Homo sapiens: one gene and its partner. The protein of the gene in region 2 purifies or fractionates together with the protein of the main gene of each other region. This does not show direct contact. Each region holds a gene or a part of one and is shown on either strand. Other genes may lie near its edges.

What was found.
Region 1: the proteins of TBC1D10A (region 2) and CIB2 purify together in Homo sapiens (co-immunoprecipitation; one large-scale study listed by IntAct). This does not show direct contact.

Annotation. Positions count from the first base shown.
Region 1 is NC_000015.10:78,110,877-78,114,685, forward strand, and holds part of CIB2 (calcium and integrin-binding family member 2), read right to left. Parts: intron 401-3,809; coding exon 289-400; intron 1-288. UniProt on the Homo sapiens protein: Calcium- and integrin-binding protein that plays a role in intracellular calcium homeostasis. Acts as an auxiliary subunit of the sensory mechanoelectrical transduction (MET) channel in hair cells.
Region 2 is NC_000022.11:30,323,833-30,328,222, reverse strand, and holds the start of TBC1D10A (TBC1 domain family member 10A), read left to right. Parts: upstream 1-1,281; 5' UTR 1,282-1,341; coding exon 1,342-1,550; intron 1,551-4,390.

The DNA of each region.
Region 1 (3,809 bases), on a different chromosome or scaffold from region 2:
CTGCCAACTACAGCAGGCTTGGGGCCACTTAACAAAGGGACAAGCAAATGAGCACAAGCCCATGGCCTGCAGTTGGGTGGCCACTGATGTACAGCACCCTTACAGAGCCCACATAGCTTATTTATTCAGAGTACAGATGAGGAAACTGAGGCACAGAGAGGTTCTGTGATCTGCTCAGAGCCACGCAGACACAAAGGGTGGAGCTGGGTTCAGCCTAGACCTGGGGGCCTCTGCTGCTGGTCCAGAGGCACAGATCCCCTGCTCGCCAGCAAGAGGTCCTGCACATACCCGGAGCTCTGGCATCTGGATGATGAGGCTCATGGGCACGTGGACGATGGGGCTCTTCCTGTAGTCCATTGGGACGAGGTTGGGGGCCAGCTCATAGAATCGCGAATGCAGCCTTGGAGGAAAGCAGAGAAAAAGCGCTGGAGGGGGTGCCATCCCTAAGCCCCAGCAGCCCGGTGCTGTCCTGCCTAGGCCTCTGCCTCTGCAGAACATCCTCAGCCAGGACCAGGTAAGGGGCCAATGGGAGGCTCTCTGCTCTGCCCACAGGGTGTGAAGTTGGGAGGGAGGTGAGTTCTGCCCAGACCTCTGTGCTGATAACCAGGTTGTGTCCAGGCCTCCCTATTTCCACCACACCCACCCCATCAGCACCACCACCATCACTCCTTGGGCCTGGGTCCAAATCTTTTAATTTTTTCTCCTTTGGGCTCTCATAAGGGTTTTCTATGCTCAGGATACTGTGCTAAGCACTTAACACATCACCTAATTTAATCCTCCTCCACATCACTGTGCAGACAGATGCATCCTGACCCCAGCTTACTGCTCAGCAAACAGGGCTGAAGAGGTTAAGAGTGATTTGTCTAAGGCCACATAACTAGGGAGCATCAAGGGCCATGGGTTGAGCCCAAGATGGGAAATCCAAGCAGAAACTCTTAGCCACTCTTCCCCCTTACACTCCTGAGGGTCCATCAAAGCCTGGGCCCACTTCGTGGCCCCACCACCCCAACTTAAGCCCTGAGGGTTGGGTCTCTCTGGGAGAGCTCTCAGCAGTCCTCACACCCTCAGGAAGCCCCTATGAATGGGTCACCCATAAACTCTCTAACTGGGGGCCATCGGGACCCAGGCTGCTACCCTGGTGGGCCTGGCCCTCCCTCCTCACTGATGGGTCAGGTCCCTAGCTCCTGTCCCAGCCTCCAGGAAATCAAGCCCACCTCAACAAGCTGCATGGACCCTCAAAGGTGTAAGGCATCCTGGCACTGTCTCACTTGGAAGCTCCCTTCCTCCCCGCCCCCTGCCCATTATTCAGTCTTTCTTTGCCCTATGTCCACTTGTCCAGGTCCCTGTCATCCCAGAGAATAGCCCCCCATCCCAAGACAGGTACAAATTGTATTTAGATGACATTGTGAGCTGCATGTGGTGGCCTATGCCTGTAAACCCAGTGTTTTGGGAGGCTGAGGTGGGAGGACCACTTGAGGCCCAGAGTTTGAGACCAGCCTAGGCAACACAGCAAGACCCTGTCTCTACAAAAATGAAAAAAAAATTAGCTGGATATCGTGGCTCAGTCATAGCTACTTGGGAGGCTGAGGCTGGAGGATCACTTGAGCTTGAGCCCAGGAGTTGGAGGCTGCAGTGAGCTATGATTGCCCCACTGCATTCCAGCCTGGGCAACAGAGCGAGACCCTGCCTCTAAAAACAAAAATTGTGTCCATTAAGTGCTGCCATGGGTGGGACAAGTGTAAGGGGCATTGACTGTGGGCTGAGGTAGGTAACCTGCCTAAAGTGATGTCCTAGGCTGCTGGTGAATGGATTAGGTATGACCCTGTATCTCCCAGGCTTGGGCCGGCCCTGCCACCCCCAAAGCCAGATCAGCCCAGGTCTCCTTTTAAGTGGCTTGACCCTGTGACACACCCCAGGCCCACCTTTATCAAGCCATTCAGCACAGCCACCCAACCTTCCTTGGGTTCTACCAGTTCTTGTGGTCCTGCTGCCTACTGTCCTTAGCAAGGCACCTGACTACTTACCCAGCTCAAACAGATAATAACACCAGCTATCGTTTAGCAAGTGCTTACTCTGTGCCAGGCCCTGAACTAATCTTCTCTGTGGATTGCTTTACTTATTTTAATCCCCAAATCACCCTGAGAGGTAGATATTAGTCTCCCATTTTCAGGTAGGGAAAACTGAGGCTCAAGAATCAAGTGTCTTCCCCATCCTACACAGCCAATGAGCAGTGGGAACAGGACTTGAACCCAGGACCTCTGGACACCAACCACTTGGCTCCTCCCTGCAAGTCAAGCCCTGGTAAGCACATCATCTGCTGGTTCAGAGCCTGTCCAGGGCAAATGAACAGTAAAATGCCACATGCCCACTTTGCCAGTCGCACATTCCTATAAAAGGGTCTGAAATTACAAGGATGTGCCATGACTTGGAGACAGAGCAGGAGGGGAAAACCCCTAAACTTGTACTTTGGGTGGGAGGAGGCTCAGCAAATGCCAGGGCGGTGGGATCAAGCTGAGACTCTCCACAAGAGGGCACTCAAGGACTTTCTTTGCTCCTATTTCTTGCATAGAGGAAAACTACTTTTTTTTTTTTACACTGTCCCCAAATAAGGAACAACCACTTGTTTCAAAATTCATGCATCTTCTTTCTTTCTTTCTTTCTTTTTTTTTTTTGAGACGGAGTCTCGCTCTGTCGCCCAGGCTAGAGTACAGTGGCGCGATCTCGGCTCACTGCAAGCTCCGCCTCCCGGGTTCAGGCCATTCTCCTGCCTCAGCCTCCTGAGTAGCTGGGACTACAGGCGCCTGCCACAATGCCCGGCACATTTTTTGTACTTTTAGTAGAGATGGGGTTTCACCGTGTTAGCCAGGATGGTCTCAATCTCCTGACCTCATGATCCGCCCACCTCGGCCTCCCAAAGTGCTGGGATTACAAGGCATCTTCTTTCATAATTCATGCATCTGGTACTTTGACATATCCATTGTGCTTCCAACTGCTACATTTCCCACTTGACCTTGACCCCACCTCATATGTGGCAGTGTGATGTTGGAGTGTTTCTAGGGGTTGGCCTACACCTCTGAAGTTTTGTGGGATGGCTGCAGCAGGAGCATGAAGTCAGGCTGAGGTTGGAGCCCTGCCTACACCTCTCATTAGCAGTGTGGGTAAGTGGGTTAATCCACTGAAGGATAAGTTTCTCTATCAGTAAAGCAGGGGCTATTCTACTGTTCTCACCCCTGGATGTTCATAAAACCACTGGCCTTCAACTGGCAGCTTTTAGCATGCTGCCTGCCACGTCAGAGGCTCCCTGGAAGGGGTGGACTAGGGAGAGAGGCTATGGGTGCTTGGCAGGGTTGAGGAGGTATCCTCTGGGGTGGGAAGGCCAGCTTCTACCCTGGGACACAGATCTGTTCTAAAACAGTAACTAAAATCACATTGGAATTTTTCTTTAAAGAAAAATCCAAGGAGAATTTGAAAACCCAAATCACTGTGAAAGAAACTCTAAGCATTGTCAAAGAACCACATCTCTGTCACCTCTCCCCCAATAAAGGGCACTGAATTCAAGAAGAGTTATATATTAGTCCTACTGTAACATCCAGGACCAGAAACCATACTTACGCTACTTGAACTGCCCCCGAGTATGAGGCAAGAAATGTGAAAACTCTCACTTTATTTTACAAAGTTAACAAGAACCCTGATACAAGAACCTAATATGTAGCATCCAGAATGGACCAATGGCACTTGCATAGATAGATGAAAAAGTCTTATAAAATAACATACTGGGGGCCAGGCACAGTGGCTCATGACTGTAATCT
Region 2 (4,390 bases):
TGCTAAGAGATTACAAGACATGTTGCAACCAATTTGGAAAACAGTTTGCCAGTTCCTCGAAAGGTTAAACAGTTGCCATATGACCCAGCAATTCCACTCTTCCTTATCTATCCAAGAGAAATGTAAACATAAGGCCCCCACACAAAAGCTTGTACCTGAATGGTCAGAGCAGCATTATTCATAATGGCTAAAAACTAGAAACACGCGAATGACCATCACTGATGAATGGAAAAACAAAATCTGGTATAGTCCCAGCTCCCAGGAGGGGCAGTATAGGTCTTTCATGGCGGTGTGGGCCTATCCCAGGAAAGGGAGGGGTGGAGTCAGACATACCTGGGGCAGATGTGAATCCAGAAGCACTGATACATGCTACAATGTGGATGAAACTTGAAAATGTTCAAGAGAAAGAATCCAGACATAAAAGGCCATATATTGTATAATTCCATTTATATGAAATATCCAGAAAAGGGACATCTATAGAAACAGGAAGCAGATTAGTGGTTGCCAGGGACTGGGGGAGCCAGGATGCGGAGTGACTGCTAATTGGTAGGAGTTTCTTTTTGGGGTGATGAAAATGTTCTAAAATTAGAATGTTGTGATGGCTGCACAACTCTGTAAATATGCTAAAAATCATTGTACACTTTAAACGTGAATTTATGGTATGTTTATGTTCCATAAAACTGCTGGGGAAAAGACTACAGGAGAAAGTAGGTAGAGCTTCGGGCGTGCGTGGCTCAGTAAACGCTGGTGATTATTAATAATTAGGTCTCACGAGGTAATTTAAAGCCCCAGAAGCAGTGAGTGCAATGGGACTGCCAGACTTCTGGCTCAGGCTGGGCCTTTAAGCCGCTCTGCGTCCCTGAACTCACTTGGGCCTCCTCAGAGTTCCTCATAAATGAATGGGGCAAACAATCCCTACCACGTCCTTGGGGTCTCGCAGGGAGCGGGGCTCAGGAGGCAGATGAGGAATCCATGGAGGAAGCCCTGGGCCTCCGGCTCGCGCTCTGCAGTAGGTGACAGGCCCCGCTTGGAGCCAACCCGGAAAGGCCCGAGCTCGTCCAGGTGAGTTCTTGTGATTGGCAGCCCGGAGGAGGGCGGGGAGGGCTGCGGTGACGGCTGCCCCGCCCCCTCACTTCGGGCTTGTTGGCGCCCGCCGGGGGAGGGTGGGCGGGGCCCGGGGTCCGCGGCGCCCATTGGGCGTGGGGGGAGAGCTCCGGGGTGGGCCTGGAGCCCCGCCCCCCGGCCTTGCGGCGGCCAATAGGCGCCGCGCGTGGGCGGGGCGTCGGCGGCAGCAGGGCGGCTGAGGTGGCCGCTGGAGCTCAGGCGGCGGGCGCGGCTGGGATGGCGAAGAGCAACGGAGAGAATGGGCCGCGCGCGCCCGCGGCCGGGGAAAGCCTGTCGGGAACCCGGGAGAGCCTGGCCCAGGGCCCCGACGCCGCAACCACCGACGAACTCAGCTCTCTCGGGTCTGACTCGGAGGCCAACGGCTTCGCCGAGCGCCGCATCGACAAGTTCGGCTTCATCGTGGGCTCGCAGGGCGCCGAGGGCGCGTGAGTAGCGCCGGGGGTCGGGACTGAGCGCGCCACCCACGCGAGGGGCCTCGACACGGACGGAGGCGCCCTCGGGACTTGCCGACACGTCCCCCTCCCAGGCAGGGACCACTAATCCCCGTTCCCTCCCCTGCCCCACCCCCACCACCCCTGCCTTCCTAGACCCGCCCCCTTCGCAGTCCTACTTCCGACCCAGGGGGCGGACGGGCCCACACCTCCACCCGCCACCTCCACCCTCCGGACAGACTGACCCGCTCCCAGGAAGGACCGACTGTGCCCTCCTTCCAGCCGTGGAACAGAATGACAGACTGCCCCAAACCCACCCCTGCCGCCAAGACCTTAGGGATGATTGTTTCTGCCACCCCGACAGGCTCCCAGATGGCTGGCGCCCCCCTCCATAGACACTCATTCTCCATCTTTCCCCCTCCCACAAACCCACAGACGCCCTTGTCTCCCCGCCTCACTGCCCCCACACCAGGAGACCTCAGACCGACTTCAGGACTGACTGCCCCGCCCCCACCCCTTCCCAGGACAGACTGACCCTTTCCTCGAGGCATACAGACCTCTGGATGGACAGACATTGGTCACCTCCCTCCCCTCAGCTCCATCCTGGGACAGACAGTCCCTTCTCCTCATGGAAGGGTCGGAGAAGGGCCCCCTATCCGCTCATACACAGCTTCCTCCACTGGCACTGGCAACAGGTGGGCAGGTACTCCCCCTTCCCAGCACGTACAGGGCGACAGGGAGCCCCACCACTAGGACAGACCATCAGCTCCAGCAGCCACAGGAGCCAGTAGATGGGCTCTGTGTATGTCCTGTGTATGTATGCGCCTCCTCCCAAGGGCAGATCTTGGGCGTGGGACGGGGGCAGGCAGGGAGACAGCAGGGTCCCTGCTCATATTAGCACCCCCCGATGTCCTATCCCGAGAGCACCCAGACACCCAGCTAGCAGACAGAGAAATGTGGGGCAGTGGAACAGCACCTTGCCTCCAAGCTGGGCCCCATGTTGCCCCACAGAATCCCCCGAGCCCAGGCCTCAGAGATCATGTGTACAGGCTGGCGGTCCCCTTAGGAAAGATGGACTCCATACCCCACTCCCATCCCAGCTGTCCTGTCACGTGAGACCAGTGTTGTGCACAGAACTGACAAGACTCCCTCCTGATGTGTGCTTTCCATCCCAATCACCAGTAGGAGCTCCTGGGGCCCTGCCATGACCCTACTCCAGAGAATATCCTTTCTCCCTTTCTCTGACCAATTGAGATTGTCCAAGGTCACCCCAGACTCTCTCATGACTTATGGAAGCGCTTTAACTGTCTAAGAACCCCTGTCACTTCCGGGATTTTCCCCAGCCCTAAAGCCTCTTATTCACCAGGCCTCCTTCTTCCTTGGAGAAATCCAGGCCCCTCCCCTAAGGGGAGTTCCCTCTCACCCACTGGATCTGTCTCCTCCAGTATCTCCCTACTGGCTCACAGCAGGCTAGGTTTAGTCCAGGACTCAGAGAGAGCACCCCTCATTCTGAACCCTCACCCTGACTGATGCTTTGTCACAGTTCCCCAGGGATTCACTTGTGAGAACTTAGTGGGGACCTGGAGTGTTTTGAATTGAGGAGCAGTCACCTGGGATTAGGACCCAGGGAGGTGTGTGGTCTTGAGATCTAGGAAAGGAGTTCCCAGTTGCATTTATGGGACCTTGGAAGGAAGAGCTCAGATTTGTGGGAGAATGCTAGGGCATGAGAGTTCCTACTACATGCTTATCAGGCAATCAACCAGATCTTGGGGTGCAGAGCAATGTGATATATTAGGAAAAGGCCAAACTTAGGAATTACACTTGCTAGCTTTGTGACCTTGGGCAAGATCCTGAATCTCTGAGCCTGTTTACTCACTGTAAAGGGCGACAGTAACACCCACTTCCCAACATTACTCTGGGGGTTAAATGAGTATATGATACGTGAAGGTGCCTGGCACAGCGCTTGTCACAAGTAGCGGCCCAGAAAATGTTAGTTTTCTTTCTTTCCTTCTAAGGGTCTGAGAAATGAAGAGAAAAATGAGGGCATATCTCTGGTATTTGTGGGCAGAGTGAGGCCCCAGTGGAAGCACCTCCCTTTGGCTGTAGTCCCCAACCAGGCAGCCAGACATCTGTCTTTCTTACCCCACAACCACAAACCCGGGATGTGGCTCTGCAGACACCCTCTACATGGCTGCTGTCTGTAGGGCTGGGGCTGAGGTGGGATCCCAGCTCCAGTCCTCTCTCCTTCCCTCACTTTCTGGAGCCTGTCAGTCAACCTAAAATCTCTGGTATCTGAAAGCTTCGATGTTCCCTACTTAATTTATATTGTGGTTTCAAAAAAGCCAAGAGTAAGTCCCTGCCCAAGGCCATAGAGGGGAAGTTATGGAAAGCTTCAGGGTGACCGCCCTGAACCCAGTCTCGTGGTTGAAGGCTAGGAGTCCATGTTCTATGCTAGAGAAGTGAAACGTTAGCCCTCATGGGTACTGTGGAGATGGTGGGGACTCTGACTCCAGATTAAAGGTCCATTTCAGCTACCCTGGGCCAAAGGTTGTCTTAAGACATTTTGGATGTGGAAGTTGCCAGGCCTGGGGGTAAGAAAGCAGGTCACAGGCTACCTTACTGAGGTGACTATTAGCTACATGGCATGAGTAGATTAAAAAAACCATAGACTGCACTGTAAGGGATCTTTTTTTTTTGAGACGGAGTCTCGCTCTGTCACCCAGGCTGGAGTGCAGTGGCGCAGTCTCAACTCACTGCAACATCTGCCTCCCGGGTTCAAGTGATTCTCCTGTCTCAGCCTCCTGAGTAGCTGGGAGGCAGAGATTGCACCCATC